Linked DNA regions of Homo sapiens: region 1 is linked to region 2. The links come from fine-mapping of genetic effects on gene expression. A gene starts in region 2. The other region holds a variant in brackets. All regions are shown on one strand. Distances are between the middles of the regions.

Evidence for each region. PIP is the estimated chance that this variant, and not a neighbour inherited with it, causes the effect.
Region 1: its variant is fine-mapped to the expression of PLA2G4D in esophagus mucosa (GTEx, PIP above 0.99).

Annotation. Positions count from the first base shown.
Region 1 is chr15:42,114,239-42,130,192 of GRCh38, forward strand. No RefSeq gene overlaps it. Among named protein-coding and RNA genes, the nearest start is that of PLA2G4D, 28 kb to the left of the region's middle. The variant G/C (reference allele first, on the strand shown) is at 7,448.
Region 2 is chr15:42,085,717-42,101,670 of GRCh38, forward strand. PLA2G4D (phospholipase A2 group IVD) reads right to left here and starts at 8,846. Exons shown (of 20, transcript NM_178034.4): 1 at 8,699-8,846; 2 at 1,912-1,984; 3 at 1,584-1,720; 4 at 497-628. The coding sequence starts at 8,743. RefSeq lists enhancers at 5,722-6,696, 7,671-8,645, 11,044-11,544.

The DNA.
Region 1 (15,954 bases), 29 kb after region 2:
GGCACCTGTAATCCCAGCTATTCAGGAGGCTGAGGCAGGCAAATTGCTTGAACTCAGGAGGCAGAGGCTGCTGTGAGCTGAGATCGCACCACTGCACTCCAGCCTGGGTGACAGAGTGAGACTCCATCTCCAAAAAAAAAAAAAAAGATAACAGTAATAAATCCAAATATATCAATAATCGTAATAAATGCTAATGGACTAAACTAATCCATTAAAAACTATAAATTTAATTTTCTGTATGCTTGAATTTCTCCTAATAAAAAAAATTTTAAAGAGAGATTGTCAATCTAGTGTTTTTTTTAAACTCCACCTGTGGCTGTTTGTAAGAGCACACTGAAAACATAAGAACACACAAAAAAGTTGAAAATAAGAGCCTGATAAAGATACACCAGGGAAACACTGATCATGAGAAAATTGGTGTACATATAGATAAAAGAGACTCTAATGTAAACATCATTAGGAATAAGGAGGATTGCTGTGTAAAGATCAATGGAATAATTCGCCAGGAAGATATAACAGTTATCTACTTGCATGTATCTAAATAACATAGCCTTAAAATGCTATGCTCTAATTAAAACTTGACAAAATTAAAATGTCCTAAGCAAAACTTGACAAATCTACAATTCTACCTCTCTCATCAATGGATAAATAAAACATATAAAATATTATTGAGAATATAGAAGATTTGAACAACACAGCGAACAAGCTTAATCTACAGGACATATACAGACCCCTACAAATACATATACAGGACATATACAGCCACAACATTTAGGGAATACACCTTCTTCTCAAACACAATGGAACATTTTTTACAAACATTGGTCATGAACAGGGTTTTATGATAAGTCTCAAAAATCTGAAAAAGGTACCATACAGATAACATTTCTTTTACCAAGGTGCAAATAAGGTAGAAATCAATCACAAAAATATGCCTTACAAAATCCATGATTTGAGAATTATGATACACATTACCAAATGGAAACAGAATAAACTTACTTTTTTAAAAAAATTAGCCTTTTTTTTCAGAACAGAAAAACTGTGAAGATAGTACAGTGTTCCCACAGACCCTGTGGCCAGTTTTCCTATTATTAACATCAAACATGAGTATATTTGCTACAATTAACCAATATTGATATGTTATTATTAACTAAATCCATCCCTTATTCAGATTTCCTTAGTTTTTACCTAATGTCCTTTTCTTTTCCAAGATTCCATCTAGGATATGACATTTAGTAGTCACGTCTTAGGCTCCTCTTGGCTGTGATGGTTTCTCAGACTTCCCTTGTTTTTGATGACTTTGACAGTCTTGAGAAGTACTGGTCAGGTATTTTGTAAAATGTCCTTTGATTGAGATGTGTCTGATGTTTTCCTCATTATTAGACTAGAATCATGGTTTTGAGGGAGGAAGACCACAGAGGTAAAGGGCCATTTTCCTCACATCACATCAAGGGTACATGCTATCAATGTGCCTTATCAATGTTGCTGTTGACCTGATCATCTGGATGAGGTAATATTTGCCAATTTTCTCTACTGTAAAGTTACTTCCTCCTTTCCATTCTGTACTCTTTGGAAGCAAGTCACTAAGTGGAGCTCATACTTAAGGGGTGGGGAGTCATATTCTACCTCCTTTATTGAGGAGTATCTACATAAATTATTTGGAATTATTCTGCATGAAAGATTTGTCTCTTCTTTCCCATTGATTTATTTTATTAGTATTTATTTATATTAGTTTATTTATATTAGTATGGACTCATGGATATTTTATGCTTTAGGTTGTAATCCAATGCTACTTTATTTCTTTTAATTTTTAAAAATTTTTTATTTTATTTAATTATTTAATTAAAAAAAATTTTAAACTATTATTAATTTTTTTTTTGAGACAGGGGTCTTGCTCTGTCACCCAGGCTGGAGTGCAGTGGCATGATCTCGGCTCACTGCAACCTCCGCCTCCCAGGTTCAAGTGATTCTCCCGCCTCAGCCTCCCAAATAGCTGGGATTACAGGTGGGTGCCACCACACCCAGCTAATTTTTTTTTTGTATTTTTAGTAGAGATGGGGTTTTACCATGTTGGCCAGGCTGGTCTTGAACTCCTGACCTCAAGTGATCCACCCGCCTCGACCTCCCAAAGTGCTGGGATTACAGGCATGAGCCATAGTGCCCAGTCAACTTTGTTTTCTTTTGTTGCTCAAATTGTTCCACCATTGGCCATTGGGGAGAATTTGTTGTTGCCTCCTGTGTCTCTTTTGACACGTATGTATTGTTTTGCTTTTTGAGCACCTCCTTGCTTTTTGATCACTTCCTTACTTTCTGGCACTACAAGATGCTTTAGGATCATCTTGTATACTGACTGTTTCCACTCTAGAATGAACCATTTCTCCAAGAAACCCTGGTTCTTTCTTGTTGAAGAATGCTATTAGAAGCCAAGATCTGGGCACTGTGTGTGCTCATTGCTACTGGGGTGTCATTACTTCTAGGTTCTCTCAGCAAACAGAGCTAGGCTATTGTGTGTGTGTGTGTGTAACACATATTTAATATATTATATATGTTTATATATATGTATGTATATGACATATACTGATCTGTGTATACACACATATATATAATTATTTTTATATCTATCCATCAATATCTAAACTAAACATGGTATCTCTGACTCTAATCTAGCACCACATTGTTCATTCTAGTAATCCAAAAGCCTTTTGAAAAACTGAATTACTGGCTGGGTGTGATGGCTCATGCCTGTAATCCCAGCACTTTGGGAGGCCGAGGTGGGTGGATTGCCTGAGGTCAGGAGTTCGAGACCAGCCTGACTAACATCGTGAAACCCTGTATCTACTAAAAATACACACACAAAAAAAACAGCCACGCATGGTGGCACACGCTTGTAGTCCCATCTACATAGGAGGCTGAGACAGGAGAATTGCTTGAACCCAGGAGGTGGAGGTTGCAGTGAGCTGAGATTGTGCCACTGCACTCCAGCCTGGGTGATAGAGCAAGACTCCATCTCAAAAAAAAAAAAAAAGAAAAAGAAAAAAAGAAAAACTGAATTAGTAATTCAAAATCTAACAACAATAAAAAATAAACTCAAGACCCAGATTACTTTATAGGCAAGTGTTACCAGGTAAAGACTAGACACCATTTTAAATGTGCATTTGAAAAACATCAAGACCTCAACAAATGGAAAAAATATGCCATGTTCCTTAGATAGAATCTTTATCTAAAGATATCAATTCTCTCCAAAAACAATCTCTATATTTAATGCAACTTTAAATAGAATCCCAAAAGGGTTTTTCATGAAACTTGATGAGCTGAATCAAAAATTTATATGGAAGATCAAAAAAATAGTAATAGCCAAGACAATACTAAAAGAACAGGAAGGAGGCTTGCCTTACTGTAAATTAATTACAGCAGCTGAGTCTTGGAGCAAGAACAGACACACAAATATAACAGAATATAGAGCCCAGAAACAATACCTACACACAGCTGGAAACTTGTTATATGATAAAAGTGGCAGTGTCGATCAGGGCAGAAAACATACTAGCTATTGAATGGTGCTAGGGAAAACATAAAATCAATTCAGGCCCTATATTTTATTTTTTGAGACTGGGTCTGGCTCTGTCATAAGGCTGGAGTACAGTGGTGCAATCTTAGCTCACTGCAACCTCCACCTCCCAGGCTCAAGTGATCCTTCCACTTCAGCCTCCTGAGTAGCTGGGACTACAGGTGCAAGCCACCACACCTGGCTAATTTTTATATGTTTTGTAGATACGAAGTTTTGCCACATTTCCCAGGCTAGGCTTGAACTCCTGAGCTCAAGCAATCCTCCCGCCTCAGTCTCCCAAAGTGCTGGGATTGCAGGCGTGAGCCACCGTGCCCGGCCAGGCCCTATATTTAAAAAGTAAAGATTAAAACTCTTAGAATAAAATATATGATATTTAGAACATCAAGATAAGGAAGGATTTTTTAAAAAAGAAACAAAACCCATAAATCACAAAGGATAACTATTGTTTATTCAATTATATTAAAATATAAAACTTTAAAATAAAAGACACCTTCCAGTGTGGAAAAAATAATTCACAGACTGAGGGAAGATATTTGCAATATATTTAACCAAAAATGTATTAGAATAAAAAAACATATTTATATGTTTACAAATCAGAAAAAGACAAAGAACTGAATAGAAAAATGGGCAGAATATACAAACCAGCATATCACAGATGAGCAAACCAGCACAGACAAAAACACACCAAAAATATGCTGCACCTCACTAATATATGAGGAAATGCAAATTAAATCCACAGTGGGATACTATCTCGAACACATCAGATTTGCAAAAACTCAAAAGCCTTACAAGCTCCCTGAACTCAGCATTTTCCCTTCTCTTAAGTCATTCAAAGGCAACAGGAGAAAATAACAACAGAAACACAAACTCTACGTTTGATGAAATTTAAAAAAACATTTGAATCCCAATCCACAAATATATGTGGACTACTAAAAGCAATGAAGATCAAACAGGGGTGTGGAGGGAAAGGGATCAAGAATGCCTACAACTTCTGAGCTCACAGACACCTACAGGGTGCCCATGCCAAGGGGAGGAACACACCTTAAACTGCAAAGCCAAAATAATGGATGGGGTGCATGGACTTGTGGCAGGAACTTCTCTGGAATGGATTTAGTTATGGAAAATATTGGGGGCGGGGCTGACTGACAAATCCCAGAAGCAAGACTCTTTAAGGAGAAGCTGTGTATTCCAACAGCTGCCTATCTCATTCGGCTGAGCAACGATAAAGCTAAAGGAACTCATGCACCCTGAAAGGACAGTTCCTGCCGCAGCACAAGCAGCCTATGCCCCTCCCTGAGACTCTTATTCTGAAATAGCTGGTGTCTGTAGCAGGGTTCTTCACAGAAACAAATAGGATGTGTACATAGAGAGAAAGAGATTTATCATAAGGAAGCAGCTCACAATTATGGAGGCTGGCAAATCCAGAATCTGCAGCGTGGGCCAGCAGGCTGAAGACGCAGGAGAGCTAATGGTGCAGGTGAGGTCTAAAGGCAGAGTCTGCTGCAGAACGGGCTCTTGCTCGGGGAGGTCAGTCTTTTTGCTCAGTTCAGGCCTTTAACTGATTGGATGAGGCGCACCTACATTAGGCAGAGCAGTCTGCTTTACTCAGAGTTCACCAATTTAAATGTTAATCTCATCCCAAAACACCCTCCAAATTGACACATAACATTACCCATTACAGTGTCTTAGGTCTGGTTCCTTAGAAGCAGAGCCTGAGGCAGGGACTGGGGACACTTGTTGTACAGGGAGAATACTCCCAGGAGACAGGGAGAGAGGGAAGCAGGGAGGAAAAATAGCTAAACAAACACGTGGTCTCAGCTGCAGCCTCGCTTCAGTCTGGTCCCACGGGGACCTCTGCAGCACAAATTGCAAGAGGTGGTCCCACTTTGGAGCAAGGGGCCTGGCCTTCTGAGCCCCTCTGTCTGTCGGGGATTGACTGCTGACGGCCTCAGGGTTACGGGTATGAGTGAGAACTTAACCTCTCAGGTGCGATGGTTCATTGCATGTGCTTCCTTGGCTAGGCTATGATGCCCAGCAGTTCAGTCAAACACTAGCATAGATATTGCTATGAAGGTATTTTGTAGATGTGACTAATTTACAATAAGTTGACTTTAAGTAAAGGGCATTACCCTCAGTAATGTGGGTCGGCCTCGTTTAATCAGTTGAAAAGCATTAGGAGCAAAAACTGAGGTTTCTCAGAAAAGGAGGAATTCTGCCTTAAAGACTGCAACTCTTGCCTGGGTTTCCAGCCTGCCAGCCTGCCCTACAAATTGCAGACTTGTCAGAGCCCACAGTTGCATGAGCCAATTCTCTCCCTCTCTCATTGATATTGTCTCTCTGAAGAACCCTGAGTGATAAAGCAGGTGTGGGACTCTCATTCAGCCAAGCACAGATCTTTGGAGAAGGGGTTAGCTGAGGGCCATTAGCAACCAACCCTCTCAGCAGCCAGGCTGGTCAAAGGAAGCTGTGCAGGCCACCAACAGCATATACTACAGTCCACCTCCCAAACCACTGAGATCCAATTGCTTCCCATATTAACTTCATTCAATCTAGGCACAGCTTTTCCAGGATTCTGGCTGGTCACAATTTGTGGGAACATTTACAGGAGAAGAGTTAGTGGAATGAACTACAGCCCACACCACCACAGTTTGTCTCAATCTGTCACTGATACTCATCATCTTCCTCCTCCACCACCCACTCTAGGTTCTCTTGCCTCTCAGCGAGCACTCCTGCTGCTCTCTGTGGCTCTCAGGAGGGGTGTTCCAGACCTTTATCTCAGAGGAGTCTGAAGCTCAAGTTATGCTTTACTCAGACCATGGTTGCTATATTTACCCATTTTTACATGCAAAATTTCACATAGAAAAAAGCAAACCCAGGATCACCTGAGTGCCAAACATATTCCTCCCTGCCCCCATCATCCCACTGTATAGCAGCAGCTCTGTGTCTTCCTGATGATCAGATCAATTACCCCTGCTGGAGCTGTAACCCCTTCCTTTGCCTGCTGATCTACCAGCATGAGGAGGCCAAAGTGGCCAGGCTGCAGCCATAGCTGTAAGATTATTGGGACTCCTATGGCGTCCTCCAATAGAAGCATTTCCCGCTCCTGCCCCCAGGAACCAGGAGCTCTAGACCCACAGAGTCTAAAGTTTCTGTGAAGAGAAGCATAAATTCCCCAGGTGGGTCACTTAGAATAGTGATGAGCAGAGCCACTCCTACTTCTACCGCTTGGACCCTGGACCATCCATTCTACCTAGTGGGGACAAATGCACATGCAATGGCCATTGGCTTCAGATGTGTATTGCATCCTGAAGATAGCACACTATCCCCAAACTAGCTCCTCCATGCATCTTCAGGAGGCCATCTCGCCACTCTATTGGGCAATAGTTGGTGGTTGATGTGATATGCACCACACTGCCTCCCTTACTCTAAGTTGCTGTTATGCACAGTCATATGTAGATTAGACATTGTGTAAGTCGTTGGATTGTCGTGCTTGCTGAGGTGCAGGAAGCCGGAAAGGTAATCCACATACAGAATGTGTGTCCATTTCAGTAAGTATGAATTGTCCTTTTCAGGACAGAAGGGGTCCTGTATAATCAGCTTGCCATCAGCGGTCAGTTGAGCTCCTGGGTGCCTTATTGCAGACTCGGTGTCAGTCTTTGCAGCTGGCAGGTTCGACAATCAGCAGTGTCAGTAGCTAGGTCAGTCTTGGAATGGGGATCCTATGCTATTGGACCCCTGTACTGCCTCCATCTCTGCTCCATTTGGGAGCACAAACATTAAGATGGCTGAGGACAGGGCTGATTGACAACCACTGGACGATCCATCCCACTCATCTGGTTGTTCAGTCCTTCTGCGAGTGGTCAGCACTGTCATTAGCATAAA[G/C]ATGCTCACCCTTTGTGCCTACTCCCGAAAGGGCTCAGCTGCACTGCAGACTGGGCAGAATAGGCCAAGTGACAGGCCAGCCCTGGTACTGGTGACTAACAGCCTGCTGGACCTCCCTGCCCTAGTCCTGAGCTTGAGCTCTGCCGGCTGGCTCTGGGCCTGGCCCTGGAGGGGTCCACAGGTTGCAAGAAGTACCTTGTGCAATCCACACTGGAAGCCTGTCCTCACCCAGATCAGGGTGGAGCTGAGGGGGCCCTCAGGGTTTCAGGGCCTGGGTGTAACAGCAGCCAGTCAGATCAGGGTAGATACACACAGATACACACACACACACACACACACACACACACATATTATCCCTGGGGCTCAGCCCAGCTCACTCTGGAGGCTGAAGGCACTCCTGTCAGCCCTGTATCTGGCTTCATTGGAAGTTTCCCAAATGCAAAGACTTTTTGTTGTTGTTGTTGAACTCAGGCCCCTTACTTTCTCCACATTCATGCCTAAAACACAAGATGCGAAAAAAAAAAGCCAAGTGCTCAAAGGCATACGGTAGTATGGTGGCTAATTCTTTGGGTGTTGGAATTAAAAAAAAAAAAAAAGCCCTGAGTTTGAGTTCAAGGTATGGCTTTGTCACTTTTGACTTTAATGTTCTTGGATAAATAACAATTCTCTGAGCCTCAGTCTCTACATCTATAAAACATGAATAATATTACCTCCCTCACAGAATTGTGAGGATAAAGGAAAACACATATGTAAAATGTTTGACACAAAACAAGTATTCAACAGAGGCTATATAACAATATTATTAAAAACAAGAGTTTGTGATAAAATAGGGAACACAGAGAGAAAACCCAAAATAAATGCAGAAGACAGAAAGAAATGGGAAACACCGAAGACCCTGTGGCAAGCATGAAAATCAGACCTCCTTCAAAAGAACCTGCTGCAGGCTTATAGTGACCACCAGTCCCTGGCCACCCTCTGGAGCTATCACTGCGTTCACACCAAGGCCACGCTTTCTTGAGTTACTCCTAGCCAAAGACAGAACGTGGTGGGGCACTAGTGTCTGCCCATTCCTGTGGGATATGGGACCCCTCTAATGGGCAACTATGGCTCCAGGACTCCCATCAGCCGGGCTGGAATTTTCTTAGAACTGAGTCTGAGGCCCTTCCTTCCATCGCCCCTTCCTTCCCTGTCTCCTTTCATAGGTGTCCAAATGGTATTACAATCTGAAGGCTCTCCTGCCCCTTTCCTTCCTCATTCACAGGTGTTTACTTTAACAAGTCTCTGGCACAAATAATCCCATCTTGGCCACTTTAGAGCACCTGAACTAACACAGGCCCCTTCCCTAATGCTGGGCTTTCTTAGAGGGAGGGTCCTGAGAGGATCTGTCCCAAATCTGTGTTGTGCACCACCTGGGTGAGGGCAGCCGCAGTTCCAGGTTGACATGAAATTCTTAGATCATGGAGCTTGAATGGGAAACAGGAAGTGAGTGTCCTTGGGACATGCTATGATGCCTGATGGTTCATGTTCCTCTCTGTACCTGAAGTCGCCCCTCAGATTAAGCAATCCCTGCCTCTTCCTGCCCCCACTCCCTAGGCTGGCTCCTCTGGCCTGCACTTCAAATTCATCCTGCTTGTGCATAAACATAATTAGTGTGAATGCTTTGTTTGGTTGAACCAGTATTCTATATAGGTCTGGGGAGGAGTTTATTGTTGGCTTCTCTGAAGCCATAAATGTAAAGGAGAGCTTTAGGTGGGATGTGGCTCCCTGGGCAGGGAGACAAGCTGCAGACGTGGCCCAAGCCTAGGAGAGCTGGGAAACTCCAGCCCAGGGAGGGCTGTGGCTATGCCCACTTGCAGGTTGGGTTAAATCCCCAGCCTTTGCAGGGACAGAGTGTAGCCCTCAGGGTCCTGGGGGTTCTGGGTCAGATAAGGGTCTCTGGAGACTTCCCTCCACCCCTCATCCCAGGACCCAGTGCATCAGGGAAGTCCTCAAGGTCTGCAGCATGGCGCTGTGGCCGCACAGGTGCAACAAGTGGTCGTAAAAGTCTTTCACCTTGAACATCATGTAGTACAGAGAATAGGGTGAGGAAAAGTCACAAAGGTGTAATTGGCTTCCCTGCCTCCAAGGAGAGAGGAGATTAAGAGCAGGTCACAGAAGGCTTCCACCCATCTAGTAAGCTGAGGTCTCAAGGTTGGGAACAAGCCAGGCTTCATGCTTGGAAACATAGAAATGTTGCATTTTCTGGATTCAGACACATGTAACCACATGTAACCAGCACTACAGTGTCATATAGAGTAGATTCACTACCCTCAAAAGCTTCTGTGCTCTGCCTCTTCATCCCTCCCTCCCACCTAACGCTTGGCAATCACTGATTTTTTTTTTTACTGTCGTTTAGTTTTTCCTTTTTCAGAATGTCATACAATTGAAATCATACTCTGTACTCTTTTCAGACTGGCTTCTTTCACGTAGTAATACACATTAAGTTTCCTCCATGTCTTTTCAAGGCTTGAATGCTTATTTCTTTTTAGTGCTGAATCATATTCCATTGTCTGGATGTACCCCAGCTTGCTCATCAATTCACTCACTGAAGGACAGCTTGGTGTCTTCTAAGGTTTAGCAATTATAGCTAAAGCTGCTATAGACATTCATGTGCAGTCTTTGTAAAGAGATAAGTTTTCAACTCTTTTGGGTAAATATTCCAAAATGAAATGGAGAATATGTTTCGTTTTTTAAGAAACCTTCAGATTTGTATCCAAAGTGACTGAATCATTTTGCATTCCCACCATTAATGAGTGGAAGTTCCTGTTGCTCCATGTCTTCGCCAGCATTTGGTGTCGTTAGTGTTCTGGATCTAGTCATTCTCATAGATGTGTAGTACTATTTCATTGTTCCTTTAATTTGCATTTCCCTGATGATGTATGATACGGAGCATCTTTTCATATGCGTACCTGTCATCTGTATTTCTTCTTTGGTGAGGTGTCTGTTAAGGTCTTTGGCCCATTTTTTAATAGGGTTGTTTTCTTTTTATCAAGTGTTAAGAGTACTTTGTATTTTGGATAACAGTCCTTTATTAGATATGTCTTTTGCAAATATTTTCTTCCAGTCTGTGGCTTCTCTTCTCATTCTCTTGGCAGTGTCATTTGAGGAGCAGAAATGTTTTTTTTGTTTTTTGTTTTTTGAGACAAAGTCTCACTCTATTGCCCAGGCTGGAGTGCAGTGGCACAATCTCGGCCCACTGCAACCTCTGCCTCCCGGGTTCAAGCAATTCTCCTGCCTCAGCCTCCCAAGTAGCTGGGATCAGAGGCATGCGCCACCATGCCCAGCTAATTTTGTATTTTTAGTAGAGATGCGGTTTCACCATGTTGGCCAGGCTGGTCTCAAACTCCTGACCTCAGGTGATCCACCCGCCTCAGCCTCCCAAAGTGCTAGAATTACAGGTGTGCACCACCACGCCTGGCCAAGAAATGTTTTATTTTAATAAAATCCAGCTTATCAATTATTTCTTTCATGGATGTTGCCTTTGGTATTGTATCCAAAAAGTCATTGCAAAACCCTAAGTCATCTAGATTTTCTCCCGTTATCTTCTAAGAGTTCTATAGTTTTACATTTTACATTTAAGTCTCTTATCCATTTTGAGATAATTTTTGTGAAGAGTATAAGGTCTGTGTCTAGCCATTATTTTTTTTTTTTTTTTGCATGTGGATGTCCAGCTGCCCCAGCATCATTTGTTGAAAAGACTCGGCTTTATTGTATTGCCTTTGCTCCATTGTCAAAGATCGTATATTTATGTAAGTCTATTTCTGGGCTGTCATTCTGTTCCATTGATCTATTTGTCTCTGTGCTGTGTCTTCATCCCTTCCTCCCCCTTAACTTCTGTCACCAATATCACATTGTCTTGATTATCATAGCTTTATAGTTAGTCTTTAAGTTAGATAGTGTCAGTCTACCAACTTTGTTCTTCTTTAATGTAGTTTTGGCTACTCGGGGTTTCTTGCCTCCCCATACAAACTTTCGAATCAGTTTGTCAGTATCCACAAAATAGCTTGCTGGGATTTTGATTGGAAGTGCATTAAAACTATAGATCAAGTTGTGGAGAACTGACATCTTGACAATATTGCATCTTCCTAACTATGAATATGGAATATCTCTCCATTTACTTAGTTCTTTAAATTTCTTTCATTGTGGTTTTATAGTTTTCCTCATATAGATGTTGTGCATATTTTTTAGCTTTATACCTAAGTATTCATTTGTGGGGATGCTAAATAGTATTGTGTTTTTTAATTTCAAATTCCACTCATTCATTGCTGGTATATAGGAAAGTGATAGACTTTTAGATATTAAACTTGTGTCCTGCAACCTTGCCATAATTGCTTGTTCACTTGGAGTTTTTCTAGTACATGGTATGGAGCATGTGAATCCAATTTTATTTTATTTTACAAATAACTATCTGGTTATCACAATGTCCTTATTTAAAAGTCATTTTCTTCTTCAGTGACTTATCATGTATAGTTTACACTAAATGTTCATATGTATTGCCATCTATTTTTATACTGTGTATTCTGTTCTGTTGGTTATGTGTCAGCAGCATATAATTTTAATTATAAGGCCTTTATCATGTTTTAATGTTTGATAAGGCTCATCCCCTGCCCCCCATTCACACCATAATTATTGCTTTTTCAAGAGATGGGGTCTCACTATATTGCCCAGGCTGATCTCAAACTCCTGGCCTCAAGCGATCCTCCTGCCCCAGCCTCCCAAAGTACTAGGATTATAGGTGTGAGCCACCGTGCCTGGCTCCTGCAAGTTTATCTGTTCATATAAACTTTACAATTAACTTCCCTAGCTTAAAAAAATAGTTATTTTTAATTGAATTACATTGGGGGAAATTGATGACTTTATGACATCAATTTCCCCCAATGTAATAAATATATACTTATTTTTATTATTATTATTTTTTGAGACAGAGTTTTGCTTTGTCACCCAGGCTAGAGTGCAGTGGCACAATCTCGGCTCACTGAAACCTCTGCCTCCCCAGGTTCAAGCAATTCTTGTGCCTCAGCCTCCTGAGTAGCTGGCCATCAGGCACCTGCGACCACACCCAGCTGATTTTTTGTATTTTAGTAGAGACGGGGTTTCGCCATGGTGGCCAGCCTGGTCTTGAACTCCTAAGCTCAGGCCATCAGCCCAGCTCAGCCTCCCAAAGTTCTGGGATTACAGGCACGAGCCACCACACCCGGCCTCTACTTACTTATTTTATTATATTTATTTATTTATTTATTTTGAGATGGAGTCTCGCTCTGTCACCCAGGCTGGAGTGCAGTGGTGCAATCTTGACTCACTGCAACTTCTGCCTCCTGGGTTCAAGTTATTCTCCTGCCTCAGCCTCCTGAGTAACTGGGATTACAAGCACGTGCCACCATGCCCAGCTAATTTTTTGTATTTTTAGTAAGACCGGGTTTCACCATGTTGGCCAGGCTGGTCTTGAACTCCTAACCTGCGCCTCCCGGGTTCAAGCAATTCTTGTGTGTCAGCCTCCCTAAGTGCTGGGATTACAGGCATGAACCACTGCATCCAGCCCATTTATTTATTTTAGATTCAGGAGGTATACGTATAGGTTTGTTACATGGGTATATTGCATGATGCTGAGGTTTGGGCTTCTAACCCAAGTACTTCGCCCAAATGATATGGGATGGGACAGGGAAGTTCTGGTTAGAGAAGGGCGGGGTCCCTGGCGAGGGCTCCATCCCCATTTTGTGCTCAAATGTTGTGTTTCCCAAGACCACCCTGGCCTGCCACACTCCCATCCTGTGCCTATAAATACCCTGAGACACTAGCGGGCCAAGCAGCTGGATGTTGAGAGGAACTCAGCCATGGAAGAAGACACAAGCCACCTAAAGATGGCAAAACTGAAAGAGCACACCATAACACACGCCCACTGGGGCTTCAGCTGTAAACATTCACCCCCTAGACACTGCCATGTGGTCGGAACCCCACAACCTGTCTGTATGCTCCCCTAGAGATTTGAGCAGCGAGCCACACCCCCATCGCACGCCCTGCAGGGGGATAAGGGAACTTTTCCCATTTCACAAGTATTGAATAGGTAGTTGTTCAACCCTTGCCCCCTTCCTTTCTCCCTGCTTTTGGAATTCCTAGTGTTTATTGTTCCTGTCTTTGTGTTCATGCATATCTAATGTTTAGCTCCCACTTATGAGTAAGAACATGCAGTGTTTGGCTTTCCGTTTGTGTTAATTTGCTAAGGATAATGGCCTCCAGCTGCATCCAAGTTGCTGCAAAGGACATGATTTCATTCTTTTTTATTGCTGTGTAGTATTCCATAGCGTATATGTGCCACATTTTTCTTTACCCAATCCACCATTGATGGGCACCTGGGTTGATTCCATGTCTTTGCTATTGTGAATAGTGCTGTGATAAACATAAAAGTGCAGGTGTCTTTTTGGCAGAACAATTTATTTTCCTTCAGGTATATATCCAGTAATAGGATTGCTGGGTTAAATGGTAATTCTATTTTTACTCCTTTGAGAAATCTCCAAACTGCTTTCCACCGGGGCTGAATAAATTTGCACTCCCACCAACAGTGTATAAGCATTCCCTTTTCTCCACAACCTCACCATCATCTGTTATTTTTTGAGTTTTTAAGAATAGCCATGTTGACTGGTGTAAGATTAAACAGTGCTTGAAGGAAGTGTATAGCTCTAAATGCATATGTTAGAAAATAACCTGGGCTGGGTGTGGTGGCTCATGCCTGTAATCCTAGCATTTTGGGAGGCCAAGGTCATCAGATAGCTTGAGCCCAGGAGTCTGAGACCATCCAGGACAACATGGTGAAACCCTATCTCCACACACACACACACAAATATCTATATCTCTCTCTCTCTATATATATATAAAAATTTAGCTGGGCGTGGTGGCGCACACCTCTAGTCCCAGCTACCCAGGAGGCTGAGGTGGATCACTTTAGCTCAGGAAGTCAAGGCTGCAGTAAGCCAAGATCATGCCACTGCACTCTAGCCTGAACGACAGAGCAAGACCCTGTCGAGGGGCGGCGGGGGGAGAGAGGGAGAGAGAGAGGGAGGGAGAGAGAGAGGGAGGGAGGGAGGGAGGAAGAGAGGAAGAGAGGGAGAGATAGGAGGGGAGAAGAGGGGAGGGGAGGGGACAGGCTGATAATTAATGATGTTGAGCATATTTTCATATATCTGTTAGCCATTTCACATGTCTTCTTTGCAGAGATTTCGTTCAAGTCCTTTACTCAGTTTAAAATCAGGTTATTTTTGTTGTTTTTGTTTTTTGCTATTGAGTTGCAGGATTTCCTTATATATTTTAGAAATTAACCCTTATCAGATATATGATTTACAAATGCTTTCTCCCATTCTGTAGGTTGCCTTTACATTCTGTTAATTGCTTCCTTGGTATGCAGAAGTTTTTTGGTTTGATGTAGTCCTATTTATCTATTTTCAGGTTTGTTCCCTGTGCTTTTAGAGTCATATCCAATAAATTATTACCAATGCCAATGTCAAGAAAATTTCCCCTATAGTTTCTTTTAGGAGTTTTACAGTTTCATGTCTAACATTTAAGTCTTCAATTCATTTAATTTTTGTGTACAGCGTAAAGTAGTGTTCTAACTTCATTTTCATTTTCTCTTTTTTTGGCATGTGGATATCCAATTTTCCCAGCACATTTGTTTGAAGAGACTATATTTCCTCTCTGTCTCATTGCATATTCTTGGTACCTTCGTCAAAGATCAATTGACCACATATACATATGTTTACTTCTGGGCTCTCTATTTTGTTCCATTGGTCTATACGCCTGTCTTTATGACAGTATTTTTTAGAGTCAGACTCATGGAATTTATTTTTTAAGAGTCAGACTCATAGAAGCAGAGAGTACCATAGTAGTTGCCAGAGTTTAGGTGTGAGAGAAATGAGGAATTGTTGTTCAATGGGTATAAAGTTTCACTTTTGCTAGACAATTAAGTTCTGGAGATCTGCTGTACAACATAGTATTACAGTTAACAACATGGTATTGTAGAATTCAGAATTTGTTAGAGGGCAGATCTCACCTTAAGTGTTCTTACCACAAAGACAAAACAAAGCAGAAACAAAAATAAAACAAAGCGGAAACAAAAACAAAACAAAGCAGAAACAAAAACAAAAGAACACCAGGAACTTTTTTAGGTGTTGACTGTGTTGACTTGATTGTGGTGATAGTATCACAGGTGTTTGCCTACGTCCAAACTCATCAAATTTTACATATTAAACATGTGCAGTTCTTTGTACGTCAATTATACATCAATAAAGCTGCTTTTTAAGAAAGGAAACCACTGAGTTGAAATGGTCAGCTTCTGTCTTAAGAAGCTAGACAAAGAGCAAATTAAACTCAAAGTAATTAGAAGGAAGTAAAAAAGAACAAAATTTATTTAAATAGAAAATGGGAAAATAATGAATAAACAAAAGCAAAAGTTAGCTCTTCTTGAATATTTAATAAAATTG
Region 2 (15,954 bases):
GCCCACAGCTAGTAAGTCTGCAGAGAACAGGTCTCCCTCCCTTGGAGGTCCCACAACTCTGGGCAAGACTGAAGGGGAAGACAAGGAGCACAGCCAAAGGAGGCATGATGTGCAGGACCCATATCTTTTTCTTGAGGAGGGCCCAGACCCCCGAACTCTGCCGTCCCCACCCCCAGGCTGCAGCAGGAAGGGACGTGAGGCCTTCACAAAGCAGGCCTTGGCACCACCAGCAGGAGTGATGGATGCTGAGCTGTGTTTTGAGGGGTGGCCTTCCTGCCACAGGTGGCTAAAATTCCTCCACTGGGTGATTCAGCCTGTAACTGTAAAGTGAAGCCTTTTCCTTGCTTATTAAAATGCAAATCTAAAAAGGGGTTTAGATTTTTCTGTGAATGAGTTCACCCCAGCAGCCTCCCAACAGGTGGGAGAAATAGCTACTTCCTCAGCTTGGAGTTGGAAGAAGTGGGGCCCACGGGGACTTCCCCACCCACCCACCCACCTGGGGACTCTGGGAGAAGGTTTTCCGGAGCAGCTTGCCAGGGAGGACTTCTGAGATGTCATAGAGAACCTTGAAGCAGATGTCATCCTCCGTGACTGAGTCCTCATCATAGATGCTAAGCTCCAGAACATTCTAGGAACCAGGAACAGCGACTTAGCATTTTACCTGCTCATAGTGAGAGTAGCTCACCTCTGTTGAGCCCTTACTTGATGTCTAGAGTCAGAGAAGATCATTATGCCACCACACGTCTGCGCTTCAAAATAAAAAAAAAAACTGTAAAACTTAAATATAAGGAAATCTTATTAAATTTCAAATTTCCTCCTTCTAATTTTTGTTTTTATCAAACATAAAATTCTGAGCTGGGCATGGTGGCTCATGCCTGTTATCCAGCACTTTGGGAGGCTGAGGTGGGTGGGTCACCTGATGTCGAGAGTTCGAGACCAGCCTGGCCAACATGGTGAAACCCCATCTCTACTAAAAATACAACAAATTATCTGGACATGGTGGTGGGTGCCTGTAATCCCAGCTACTCGGGAGGCTGAGGCAGGCGAATCGCTTGAACCTGGGAGGCGGAGGTTGCAGTGAGCCCAGTTCGCGCCATTCAACTCCAACCTGGGCAATAAGAGCAAGACTCTGTCTCAAAAACAAAACAAAACACATAAAAGTCTGTCAAATAATTCCCTCTTCCTCTCTCCCTGTCTGTGTGTCTCTCTCTCCCTGGCTTTTCTGGCTCCCTGAGGTGCACCCTAAGGTATGTGCTGGTGATCTTTCACGGTCTTCCACGCATTATCTCATCTCACCCCACAGTGACCTGATCAGGAGGGGGCTCTTACTGTCTCTGTTTCATAGCTGGGCTTCGAGAGGAACCCAGCTTGTGGGAGTCAGTCCCACAGCCAGTTGGTGAAAGGACCATGTTCATTCTTTCATACATTCCCTTGCACACAGCACAGACAGGCCAGGGCACAGAGACCCCCTACTGCTGAGAGTTTCTCTGACAGCCCCAGAGGAAGCATGCTCTACCCCAGGAACCCTTGCATGGGGGTCCAGCCCGTTCACAAGGGAGTGGCCAGGAGTCCCGGGCCTTCACCTTGACCTGACTTTGGATAAGGAAACGGAAGGCCTCATTCCACACAGGATGACTGGTGTCGGTGAGCGTCTTGGTCTTAAACTTCATTCCAGGTGCGGTCGACAGCTGTAGGATCACGTAAGGGTCGGCCTCACTCACTGCCAAGGTTAAGGAAGTCTTCGTGAGGGAGTACTCCCCACACCCCTCTCCATGAGCCATGCCAGTTTCCTACCAAGACCCTGGCGGTCACCGCAGGTGACCCAGCCCAGCCCCAGGGCACTCGTCTTGGCCCTTCCTATGGGATCTGGTCCTCCCTGCTCCCGACAGAGCGCACAGGGCGGTTACTCACACAGGTCAGCCCAGCGCAGGTTCCGCGCCTCCAGGACCCTCACTGTGAGCTGCCAGCAGGTAGAGGCCTCCCCCTGAAGAGAAAATCAAACTCCAGAGTCCTTCCTGCATTCCCTCCCTTATGCCTGGAGCTGCAGCCCGGGCTGCCGACACCCCTCACCACTCTCCTGGTACTTGGTGGTGCTGACACCCCTGCCAGGCGTTCCGGGGACACCCTCTGGGGACCAAAGAGCCTTTGTCCACTTCTGTTTTGGGGGTCATGGTTCTGGGCTGCAGCAGTCAGGGAATAGCAGCACACCCAGATGTGGAATTTGTGGAACCCCTTCCCCTTCGGGAACAGAGCAACATGGGTAGTGGACAGAGCAAGGAAGTGAGGGCCAAGGAGTGGCAACCACAGAGGTCAGTTAGATGTCAGCCATTCCCAGAGCTCCCAGGGAGGGCAGCCCTTTGGCAAAACAAGGGTTACCTTTGGTGACCCTGCTGCCAGCACTGCCCACCCCTCAGCCCTTCCGGACGGGAAGCAGGCATATGACTTAAGGGAGGGTGAGCCTCAGCAGCCCAGTCCACAGGCGCTACCCTGGATCTCAGCTATCTGCACTGTAAGGGGTATGAATGAGGAAACTCCAAGAGCATCCAGCCATCACAGGGAGCAGTGGGTGCTGTGGGTGAAAGGCCACTGTGTATTAAGATGCTGATGAGGCCACATCAGCCACAGACAGCCCAGGTGTGAGGGAGAAGCAGCTGAGTGGGCAGAAGCTGGAGGAGAAGATGAGCCGAGAGTAGGTGGCAGGAGGGAAAGCAGATGGCCAGAGGGGCGTGGCTGAGGCCTGCTGGGGTCAGAGCACTGGGGGTGTCCCCACACCCTACTGCTGAGGTCCCCGGCACTGCCACGATCAGGAGGGCCCTGGAGTTTCTGTTCTTCCTGAGCCCTGCAGCACGGCTTTTTCTGGGCATCTGGCACAGGTTTCTTATAAGCCCCTTTGATGTGAGGTTACTCAAATCGGTTTGGCAGGGCAAATGGCATTTTTTCCTGTGGGCTGACCCCAAGGAAGGCTGTTGGCCTTGCATCCTCTTGGAAGGGAGCCTTCCCAGGAGGACCACCTATGAGGCACGTGGCCCCAGCAGAAAGAGCCCATGTCCAGAGGGTCTGTTAGAACAGGGGCTGTCAGGAAGGAACACTGCCTGTGCCGGGGAGTGGGGCAGTGGGAGCCCCAGCCAGGAGGGGATCCTGCAGGGCCACAGCATGGCAGGACCCCCAGGAGGCACCAAGCACATGAAGGCCTATGAAATGCTAACCCCAGGAGCCATGCAGTGTGGCGGCCCTGCTGAACAACCCAGAGACCACCTTCATTCCAGAAAAAAACCCGTGCTGGGGCTTCTGCCATTCAGCGGCTCTGCCACCAGGTTAGACTCCCCATTAAGTAAGTACGATCTTCTCAGACCCTATGTCCCTTCACCCGCTCCTCCCCGACCCTGAGGGAGCCAAAAGCCAGTGCAGTGTTTGCACAGTGAACATTTGATATCGCATAGCTGGGAGACTGTTGTGATAAAACCAGAGGTGTTTCCTGCTTTGCGCTCTCCCGTGACCAGACCCACTTCCATGCATGTGGTTGGAAGTTCTCGGTGCCCACAAGGACTCGTACCCGCTCTGCACAGATGCTGCTTGCTAGGGGCTGGCTCAGCACCCACGGGGACCTGAATCTCCACTCCCCACCAAAAACTGTAAAGGACCATGGGCCACAGCAAAGCCATATGCCTGGTGGCCCTGCCCCTGCATCTTTCCTCTCTGTGGTTCCATGCCAACGTCCTATCATTCCAGGCAGCTTCCCAGCAGAGCACATGTGACCTCCCCGAGCAAGGTAGATTTGTTTCTCTCTTCTTGGGGATTAACTCCAGTGGCACCAGCAACATGTCAACTCTATAAACCTTAAGCCTTATAGAGGTTGTCAGCAGCAGAGATTTCATGAACTTTGGGACATCTAGCTCCATTTCCTCCCCTCACTCAGATTCCACCACTGCCGGCCACAGGGAGGTGATGGCTGGGATGCTGGGGCCCTGCAGGGTATTGAGTTTGAATGTCCCGCTCCAAGACAAGACAGGTGAAGGGCAGAGGCAGCCCAGCCTCGCTCCCCTGCTCCCCCGGCCAGGCTGATACTCCACAGGTCCACAGCTTGTGGGCTGCTCTAAAGTCACTTGGGCTACTGAGAAGTGGCCCCAGTTACTCACTGTCTAGCCAGTCACCATCCCGGGTTTAAGCACTGTGGTTCATTTCTCCCTCCCATCACTGAGAGCTTCTCAACCTCAGAAAGCCCACCATTCCCCGGCAGGTTATTTTCCCTAGAGAAAAATCCCGATTCTCTTCACCTCTAAGATCATCGCTAACATGGAGTGCCCAGAACATGGTATTATTGGGACAGTGATTACAATGACTGGTCTTTACGGGGGCTTAAAGGCAGACTCTGGAGCCAGGTTGTCTGGATTTAAACCCTGGCCCTGCCACTTACTTGCTGTGTGACCTTGGACAAGTCACTAAACTTCTCTGTGCCTCTGTTTCCTCATGTGTAGTGGAAATAATAGTTTTGACCTCACATAGTATTCTGAGGCTTAAAATGTTAATGCCTGCAGACTGCTTAGGAATAAAGTAAGCAGTTTTTAGGTAACTGCTATTGCTACTACTGTTTATTAAGTATTTGCCATGTTTTCAGGCACTGTGAATGTTGCAGATACCAGGATGAAATCACTTTTGTCAGACCCCGACAAATTAGGGCTGGGAACGCATGAAAGAGCAGAGCTCGTATTTACATGTCTGAGATGAGAGTTGTTTCCAAGGACTTCCTACAAACCCCACAGAAAACAGCTTCACATCCTTCATGCCAAAGTCCCTCTTTGACAGGAAGAGGGAAATGAGCAGACCCGCCCTGTTCCCTGCTAGCACCGGTGCCCTGTGGTGGGGTAATGCAGGAGGTCAGAGAGAAGAGGAGTGGAACACCTGGGCACAGCCCCTGGTCCTGGGGACTCAGTCCTGTGAATGCCGGCTGGAGGTGAGGCAGTTTCCAGTTGTGGGGCAGACTCAGGCTCCCAAATCGCTGACACTTAGGCTTTTGTTTTACCTGGGAGCTAGACCTAGAGGAGGCTGAGGGAAAAGGGGGAAGGGGTACAGCCTTCGCCAGGGAGATGAGTTGACAAGGTTCATCACTAGACATCCATTAGGACTGCAATAATTCAGATAAGATGCTCTCAGAAAACACGTGCCCAGTAACAGCATCTCCACCAATGAACTGACAACTCTGGCTTTGAGCTCTGGAACCAATGAACTCTGTTTCCAAGCAGTTTCTGTGAGCCTCCCCCTTTTTTCCAGTAAAAGCTTCCCTTTCCCCTTCCCTCACAATTGCCCTGGCGGCCTGTCATTCGACACATTCCGAGCCACAGTCATTTCTCATTCCAGAGTAAACACAACATAGAGATCATTTTCTCTCGTGTCTTTCTGTAGGGTGACAATACTGTACTAACCATATTACCTACCGTGTGGGTGGCAAGCCACCCAGGCGCCGAGGCAAGAGACCGAGGATACAAGCTGTTCCAGTATAATAAAATATAAAACAAGAATAGTTATACCAGATATAGATCTTAGATACGATTATATATGAATATCATTAATCATTAGTTTGTAGCAATTACTCTTCAGTCCAATATTATAATAATCCTCGCTCTATAATCATAACCTAGGAAAAACCAGGCCATACAGAGATAGGAGCTGAGGGGACACAGTGAGAAGTGACCAGAAGACAAGAGTGCGAGCCTTCTGTTATGCCCAGACAGGGCCACCAGAAGGGCTCCTTGGTCTAGCGGTGACGCCAGCGTCTGGGAAGATGCCTGTTGCCAGGCGGACCATGGTCTAGCGGTAGCGAAAAGTGTCAAGGAAAAACATCTGCTACTTAGCAGACCGGGAAAGGGAGTCTCCCTTTCCCCGGGGGAGTTAGAGAAGACTCTACTCCTCCACCTCTCGTGGAGGGCCTGACGTTAGGCTCGCCCGCAGTTACCTGGAGGCCTAACCATCTCCCTGTGATGCTGTGCTTCAGTAGTCACGCTCCTAGTCTGCCTTCATGTTCCATCCTGTACACCTGGCTCTGCCTTCTAGATAGCAGTAGTCAATTAGTGAAAGTACTAATAGTCTCTGATATGCAGAAATAATGGCGTAAGCTGTCTTTCTCTTTGTCTCCTCTCTCTCTCTGCCTCGGCTACCAGGCAGGGAAGGGCCCCCTGTCCAGTGGACACGTGACCCACGTGACCTTACCTATCATTGAAGATGACTCACACTCTCTACCCTGCCCCTTTTGCTTTGTATCCAATAAACAACAGCACAGCCAGACATTCAGGGCCACTACCGGTCTCCGCGCATTGGTGGCAGTGGTCCCCCGGGCCCAGCTGCCTTTTCTTTTATCTCTTTGTCTTGTGTCTTTATTTCTAAACTCTCTCGTCACCGCACACGGGGAGAGACCCACCGACCCTGTGGGGCTGGTCCCTACACTACTGTAACTTTATTTATCCTCCCACAGCTTCAAAAGACAGTACTCCCATTTCCTCCCATTTTCTACATGAGGGAATTGAGGCTCAGAGAGGCTAACTTGCCCAAGGTCACAGAGTTAGCAGGGACAGAGTTAGAATTCAAACTTCCAGGCCAGAGCTCACAACCCCCGTCTATTCTACCTTCCCAGGACTTTTGCTTCTTTGGAAAAGCATGCAACTCTTCCCTCATTGCCCCACGGATATCTAGGATATCTAGACACTAGATTTTCATAGATTTGTCTAATTTGACTAACAGATATTCATAGATTTGTCACAGATTTGACTAATATGATTACTGAGATAACCGACACTTTAACTGATATGAATCTTTTCCCCTGAGGGCATAGGGGCGTCACATTCCCTTCTGAAAGCTCCTCCCATCTGAAATACCTCCTTAATTGATGACTAACCCGGAGGCTTCTGGAGGAAATTCGTCAGCCCAGTCACCTGTAGGATCCCCCGAATGCCTCCCTGCTGAGGGTCTCAGCCACTCTGAACCTTGCGCAGGGACCCCAGAGGCTCTGGGCCATCCTTCTTCCGGTGGAGAGGCCCAGGGCACACGTTTGCCAGGAAGTTTTGTGAGAGGCTCTGTGCTGCCCCGTGCCCATCTTGGGAGATGTGGCCCAAGAGAGCTTAAGGGGGTTGGGTCTCCCCAGCTGGGGTCCAGAGTATCCTTGCCCGTGATCCTGGGTGTTCGGCAGGAAGAGAGAAATGAGCAGACCCACCCTGTCGTCTGCTGGCACTGGCGCCCTGTGGTGGGGCAATGCAGGAGGTCAGAGAGAAGAGGAGTGGAACCCCTGGGCACAGCCCCAGGCCCTGCACCTCCCTCAGGCTGGGCTGAGTCTCCTGGACCACACGGCAGGCACGTTCCAGAACAGGTCCCGGATGGCCAGCCTAGCCTGCTGGCCCAGGTCCCGCTCTGGGGCAGGTTCCAGGCCCCTGTTCCAGCAGAAATGAGGCTAGGCTAAACCGCTGCTGAAGCTTGCCAACCACAGGAACCGACTTGAAGGCTGGAGCTTGAGGACCTGGTCCTGGGGACTCAGTCCTGTGAATGCCAGCTGGAGGCGAGGTGCTTTCCAGGTGTGGGGCCGACTGAGGCTCCCAAATTGCTGACACTTAGGCTTTTGTTTTACCCAGGAGCTAGACCTAGAGCAGGCTGAGGGAAAAGGGGAAAGGGGCACAGCCTTCGCCAGGGAGATGAGTTTAAAGGGGGAAATATTCCAGAAGCCTCCACAATGGGCCGTTCTGGGCTCAGGGCTCCTGATGGGACGGGTGGTGGAGCCAGGGCCGCCAGCCCCTCCACTGGCCTGCATCCGTGGACTCCCCCGCATCCAAATGTCCGCTGATGTCTGACTCGTGGGTGGATCCACCTGACCTCAGGCTGGGGCAACAGTGTGGTCCTTCACTGAGGGGTCCCTCTCATCTTCCCCCAGGGCTCCTTAGTGTCTGCCCTGCCCCAGGCTGAGCCTCTTCCAGGAGCACCAGTCTGGAGCTGCTTGTCTGGATCCAGCTTGGGCCTGGGTCTCAGGGCCACAGCTCTAGAAGCCCAGCGAGGTCTGCATATGAGGCAAAGGACCTCAGGACAGTGACCTTGACACACTTAGCCTCATTCCTGGCCACCACCTGGGGCACCGGGGGGAGACCTCAGGAGCCAGCTCTGCTGGCCTTGGTCCCTGGCAGAGGATGAAAACTCTGGGCTTTGGAGAAACACATGACAGAGGGTGGGGGGGTGGCGAGAAGTTTGCAGGCCTCCTTGGCCTGGATGCAGCCCCACAGCTCTTGGGCCTACTAAATACTTGGCAGTGGATGGGGATTTGGGCCCCCAGAGCTCTGGAGACACACAGGGTGATCCCAGGGCTCCAGCCAGTTCTGGGAAGTCTGCCGGCCTGTGGTGGTGGGGCTGTGGGCCTGGTGGGTCTCCTTTTGTGACACACCCAGCCACTATGTTCTCCGATGATGGTGGGGGAGAGGTCCCTAAGGACACTGCTGTGGTCGCTGGTGGTGGGGAGAGGAAGCTCTGCTGACCAGACTCACGTTTCCCAGCCCCCGCATCTACGGATGCTGCTCACCCACCCCACCCACTCTGCATCCCAAATCTCAGACTCCCTCGCCCTCTGGCCCAGTCTGAAATCACCCTGATTCCAGCTATCACACTTCCCAGAATGCACCCTGGCTCCAGGCCTGCCCTGACTGGTGCCCACATGCTCTGCAGACACTGTTACCTGGTAAGGGTGGCCAGGTGGTCCCCCAGGTGACAGGCTCTCCATGCTAGCCCTTCCAGCTTCACTCCAGGCCCAGCCCTTGCCAAGATGCTGGCTCTCTGGCTGAGTGGCAGCGACGGTCCCAGTGGGATAGGACCAGCATGAATCTGCCAGCCTTCAATGAGCCACGATCCTATAAACAGGTTGGGGCTCCACCCCCAGGTCGCTCCTTCAGCCCTGCACCTGCCCCTCTTCCCCAAGAGGCTGGGTCAACCAGCATCTCCAGAAACCTCTGGCAGGGCTCCAGGACCTGCAGGCGGAGCACCTCTTCCAGACCTGGAGTTTCAGGACAGAAGATGCAGCCAGGGGGAGGCAGACGAGTCCCAGGAGTGGTGGCAGGAAGCTGGTTCCCCTGAGGCTGAGGGCAGAGGATGGGGTGGGGGTAGAGCTGAGGAAACCCCCAGCTCCACTGGAGCCAGGGCCAGCCTCTAGAGGAGGAGGGCTGAGCACCTGAGACTAGGCAAGGAGCCAGCCCTCCTGGGCAGCTCTGTGCAGCAGGGAGTTCAGGGGATGAAAACAAGAGCAGTCGTGGTGACAGGCCCGGGCTAGTGTATCCTCCTCACCTGACCTGAGCAAGCTCCAGGGAGCAGCACAGGGGTCTGGACATTCCCCACCACAAGCCCCTCACCTCCATGCGGCGGGCCCTAAGAATTTAGGGGATTTCAATTAGACTTTGTAATAAAAGTAAAAGAGACCAATCAGGAGATTCTTAGGTTATGAAAATTGTAGAAGTAAACTTTGTGAAGCCACCTCACCGCTTAAAGCATTCAGTGTACACATTAGCACTGAACGCTCTCCTAAAATGACATGAATTCAGTCATTTTACCATCAATTCTGTAAACAGTTGAACAGCGATGATGTTGTTTTTCAAAGCAAATGAAACTGAGTTAATCTTAAAATACTACAAGTGGATCTAAAATGTATTATTTCAGAGTTGGCCAAAACAGGAATCTAATGGTCTATGAACAAGTAAACATTATTTGGGTGGAAATATCTGTCATTTGCATGATATAAAATTTAATAAAAAAATGAATGTAGTGGTTGAGCATGGCAGCTAACGCCTGTAATCCTGGCACTTTGGGAGGTCAAGGAGGGAGAGTTGCTTGAGGCCAGGAAATGGAGACCAGCCTGGGCAACATGTTGAGACCCCATCTCTACCAAAAAAATTTTCTAAATTAATGGGGCATGGTGGCACGTGTCTATGGTCCCAGCTACTCAGGAGGCTGAGGTGGGAGAATTGTTTGAGCCCAGGAGTTCAAGGCTGCAGTGAGCTATAATTGCACCTTTGCACTTCAGCCTGGGTGACAGAGTGATACACTGTCTCTTTAAAAAAAGGGGTGGGGGGGAAAGAAGTAAATGTAATATGTAGAAAACTACAAAGAACAAGTCATTTCAAGTGGGTCACAGACAAAGCAATACAGAATCACCCAGCTGGTGACTGGAAAGGCTGGGATTGTACTGTCTGTCCTGAAGCCCACCCACCAGAACTTCCCTGGTCCTTGGTGGCCTCCATTGTTTAGGCCCGTTCCAGAGGAATCCTGGGACCTTAGGAGTCCTGATTAACCTCCCTGCCCCTGTCATCCCCATACGCCCGCCGGGATCCGCTGGGGGAACCTAGGGAGGCAGAGCCGCAGCAACACGTTCCTTGAGGTGACCCCAGCCCCAGCGCCCCACTCCAGTACGGGAGGGCCAGACACCCCCTCACCCCCAGAAGACAGCTGGCTGTGCCTGGAGGAGGACGTGGTGCTCAGTTTCCCCACCTGTGCAATGATGGTGTGGTAGATGCTGGGCCTGGTGAAAACTACGAAATTCCTAATTCAGAGATTCTTAATTTGGGTCTAGGGTCCATGGATGGGAATTAGGATACTTTTAACCGTCCCTGAAATTGTATACAAAATTATGTGACTATGTATGCATGTGTGAATGTTTCCAGAGAAGGGGTCTAGAACAGCACAGTCCAGTAGGTGACTATGTATGCATGTGTGAATGTTTCCAGAGAAGGGGTCTAGAACAGCACAGTCCAGTATGTGACTATGTATGCATGTGTGAATGTTTCTAGAGAAGGGGTCTAGAACAGCACTGTCCAGTAGGAATGTTCTGGGAGCTCTGCAGATGTTGTATTAAACTTTCTAGTGGCCACAAAAAAAGAGGTAAAATGATACAGGTGAAATTAATATATATTTAGCCCAATAATCTAAGGTATTGTCAATTCAACATGTAATCAACATATAAAATTATTAAGGAGATATTTTACTTTTTTTCATACTAAGACTTCAAAATCCACTGTGTGTTTTATGCTTGCAGCACATCTTAGTTCAGCCCAGCCGCATTTCCAGAGTCCAGCAGTTGCATGTGGCTAGAGCCTACCTTACCAGAGAGCTCAGGTCTATAGCTTTAATCAGATTCTCAAAAAGAGTTTGAAAAAGATGGAAAACCATTGCTCGATGGGTCACACGTGGATACCCCCCACTTGAAGAGAGCCGCAGGGTTCTGCATGGACGAGAGGAAATATTTAGGATGCTCCCATCACAGTTTCCATGAATTATGTGCCAAGACCTAGGGTTTTGACACATGGTGGAGACCCAAGGTGGGAAGGGGGAAGGACACGGAGCAGGGAAGCACAGTGGCTGGCCTCGGACTGAGGTCCTAAAGATCTCCCCACTCCAACCCTCCAAGGGCTATGAATAGGCAGCTGGGAATAGGGATCAGACCAAGACAAAGGTCAGGACAAGAAGACAGAAGACAGGTAGAGGTGACCTGGAGGCAGTCAGCCTGGAACAGGGCTGGCAGGCACAGCGGGGCTGGGCTGAGGCCACATGCTGCTCACCCAGGCCACGGGTGGAGGGTCCTTAAAGGAGGGCCATGCCTAGAGAGCCCATCAGAGCAGACCTGACCTAAGCAGCCATGCTGGAGGAAGTCTTGGGCGCCATGTTTTCCACTCTCTCATCCCTCTCCCTTGCTGGGCATCCTTGCCACCACTGTCTCTTCTCAACGTTTACTCTATACTCACAGAAAATGAACATCTATTTTTTCATTTGGCACTCAAGGCTCCTTTAATTTCCCCAGATTTTCTCTGGAAACCAGCCCTCCCCGACTCTCTTCCCCCTTGGTTTGGGTGCTGTTGACTCCACCTCCAGCTGCAAGAACACAGCATGTGGTCCAAAGCTGGCCAGTCAGTTCCTGGAAGCTTTCTAACCAAGGCATTTGGTTCATTGGACTCAGGACTCTGGCTGGTGCAATCACAATAAATGCTGGTGCATGAAGTTCTAAGAAAGACACTTTGTCTTTCCTGCTGGGCAGAACTTGGGAGCATATGAAGCTGGGGCTGCTAAATGTATCCATCTTGCCACCATGAGAGGAAAATTTGTCAGGAAAATGGAGCCAGTAATAATAAACACCTATATAACTAATACTTCCTATGTGCCAGGCAGAGGCGGGTTTATTGTGCAGCTAATGATACTTAAGCTGAGTCTTCTCCTTGCACACACACATCCTTCCAAGGCTCCAGGGGAGCCCTAGCAGTAGGTTCGTGTGATCATATATTTTAGTAAAATTCACAGTAGTAAACGATTTTATCCACAATTGGTAAAGACTGCTGTCTTCCCATTCCTACCCCTCTGTTAGCATTGGTGTGGCTATAGATATTTTTAGGATCTGGTTAAGGAGAGGTTGAGTTAGAGATATATTTTATTTCAGTTTAGTGAGATGTATTTATGGGGTTTGCAGTCAGCTTCACATATAGTGAAGTCAGCTTCATGTACAGTCAGCTTCACATATAGTGAAGTTCACTGTGATGTGGGTGTGTCCTTTGGTGCCAGAAGAATTGGATAGAGGAAGAGAAATGAGATCTGAAATATCCAGAGCCAGAAACCAATCTGAAAAATTCCTCTAATCCAACACACAACATTGTAAGTGGAAGACTTGGTTTTCCTTGACACCTGATCAAAACAGAAGTTCTCTCCTGAAAAGGGTGTTTCCCATCATGTCTTGATTGCATGTTTTCCTTTATTTGAGGGTAATTTTAAGAAATATTAATAGAATATGTATCGTGATTCCTGTGCTACAGCAGCTAGCACAACACCTACAACAGCTTATACACCAAAGAAGCTTGATGGAGGCTGCGGCAGATTCTGTTTTCCAATAATGGTTGCACCGATATCTCCTGTCCATGCTCTTCCAGCACCTTGCCACTCCCCATCAAAAAATAGAGGCCAACTCCCCTTCTCTTAAATCTGATGGGCTTGTGATTGGTAACTTACAGGATGTGAGAAAAATGACTGCTTGACTCCCAAGGTTAGATCATAAGGTGATGCAGCTCTCTTTTTTAATGGCTAGAACACTCCCCCTTAGAGCCCTGAGCCGCCAGGCGAAACACCCAACTCCCCTGAGGCGGCCATACTGTGGGGAAGCCCAGCCATAAGGACAGGCCACCAGTGGGTGCTGGAGTCAGCAGTCCTAATCTCCAACTGGCCCAGCCCAGGCTCCAGACCCACGGACGAATGAGCCTTCCAATAATTTTAGCCCCAGTGGTTGGGTCATCCCTAGCCAGGGCCCTTTCTGAATTTCTGACACACAAAATATCTGTGAGCCTAATAGAGTGGTTGCTGTGTTATGCCATTACATTTTGGGTGATTTGTTACATAGCCATAGTAAGTAAAGCAGAGGTTTTCCTAAATTTGTAATGATCCTGAAGTTTTATGTAACATTACCAGTAAAGAATTATGAAGCTGAAAGAAACAATCAATAATGAACTACTATTAACTATCAATAATTTTCTAAAAATTCCAATCAACCAGACTGGAGGAAAGATTGCTACCTATTTGCACCAAAGAAAGTGATATTACAAAACTGGTATTGTTATACAGCAAAGAAGAAATGAAAAAAAACAACAACTCACAAAATGGGTGTTGAACAAAAAGGCAATCAAGGTGTATTCAGGCAAGCAGTGGAGGGAAAAGCATGGAGGTGTGTCTGGCAGTTGATTCACACAAATATCATGGTGTGTTTTTTTTGTTTGTTTTTTGTTTTTGATATGGAGTCTTGCTCTGTGGTCCAGGCTGGAGTGCAATGGCATGGTCTCAGCTCACTGCAACTTCCACCTCCTCGGTTCGAGCAATTCTCATGTCTCAGCCTCCCCAGTAGCTAGTATTACAGGTGCGCACCACCATGCCTGACTAATTTTTGTATTTTTAGTAGAGATGGTGTTTCACCATGTTGGCAAGGCTGGTCAAGAACTCCTGGTCTCAAGTGATCCACCCGCCTCAGCCTCCCAAATTGTTGGGATTACATTTGTGAGCCACTGTGCTGAGCCCATATCAATGTATTTTTTTAAATTTTGTAATATTTTGGAATTTATCAACCTTTTAAAATTTTAATTTTTGCCTGATTTCTTTTTATCATTTACAAAGAATATTAACTTTTGTACCTAACTTTGTGTCAACTTGTATAACCTTCAGGCTCCATAATACACGCCCTTGTGTCACACTATTCAAAGCACTTTATATAGAGAACACCGTTGTTTTATCTACAATTGGCAAAGCTGCCTGTCTTCCTGTTTCTGCCTGTCTGCCGACATTGGTGTGGCTATGGCTGTTTTTAGGATCTGGCTAAGGAGATCCCCCAAGCCCTGTCAGGTGAGGAACTTTTATTATCCTCATTCTACAAATGAGAACACGGAGGCAGGAGTTGGTTGATGAACTGCCCCCAGGTCACCCTGGGAGTGGAGCCCAGAGGCCACAGTACAGTCTCCTTCCAGAGGAAGTGCAGGCAAAAGGGAGCAGAGAGAGCCCTTGGATCGAGCTTTGCCTGAAGGAGTAGATCCAGTCCTGGGCTTTTCACTTGGGTCTCAGCCCCTCCCCACCTACTTTAACCCCAGGAAAGAAGGGTTTGGTCACTCCCTTCCCTTTATCCTTGCTTAGAACACCAATCGATGACAATGTCACAGAGAAGAGGAGGCAGCTGACTGACAGGGGTGTAGGAAGTATCAGGGCTGATGACCTGCTGAGTTTCCATTCCAGGCAAAAGCCCTGGAGCAGGTTGTGGGTCAGATAGCAAGATATGTAGCATGAGGCAGGCATGACACATGCTTCGGTGTTCCGCGCTGAGTACCATGGGAAGGCACAAGCGGGCCTGTACTCTTGCCTCATGAGGAAGTGGTTATTTACCCTGTTGACATGAGGGAAAGGACCATTTCCTGTCCAGGAGTGCTCAGGACCAAGCAGGAAAGGGACACCTCACCCCTGCCCTCATTCATTCTAGGGCTACTGGAAAGGACAAGCCTTGCTGTAAGCAAGGGACAGGGCACCACCCAGCCAAGCCATTCATTCATCCCACAAATTGTTATTGAGTGTCTACCGTGTCCCAGACAGAGAGCTGTGAGGGTAAAAACAGGCCTGGTCCCCACCTCCAGTGTACAACCCACCTTCCACTCCATGTCTCTCAGCCAACGGGGTAAGTCAGTGTTCCAGAACCTGGGACATGACACTTCAGGCCCTGGAGTGCTGGGGCAGATATACAATGCAGAACAGAGTCTCTGGAATTTCAAGGTAAAGAGCCATGGAAGAGCTGTAAACAAATATTAGTCAGCTAATTAACTTAGTTTGGAGGCAGTCGTTGCAGGTCCATGAGCTTTGGGATAAGAAATAGAAACATGTTTTGTTTTGTTTTTTCTCTGAAATTTTTGTTTGTTTTAATACAATTGAACATCTCATTCCCCCCCAACAGTAATCAAAGCAAACATTTTATCATTATTTTTGTCATATTATTCTTGGTATATCAAACTAAATTCCAGGAATGTAAGAAAATCTGACTTGGAAATATTACATAGAAAAAGGCTGAATTAACACATTACCTTTTTTAGTTTTTCCTTGTAAGTATACATTGACATCTACTTATCCGATAACAGCACTGTGGTTTTGAGTGAGTTTGGTTTGGTTTGGTTTGCTTTCCTTCCAGAGGGAATGCAGTATGGCAGTATTATCTTTGGAACAAATTAAAAAGGTATTAGCAAATAACAGAAGAGTTACTTCCACACATATATTTTCCATGGGCAATAAGTAGAAAAGTATATTATGAAAAAATATGCCTCAACTATGCTTTTTAAAATTTCTCGAGGTTTACTGGTTTGTTTTTCTTATTAAAATATAATGCACTATCACTACTGTCTGTCCGGGGAAAAACAAACCCTGAGGTTTGAGTTTCCTCCTTCAGCCCATAAA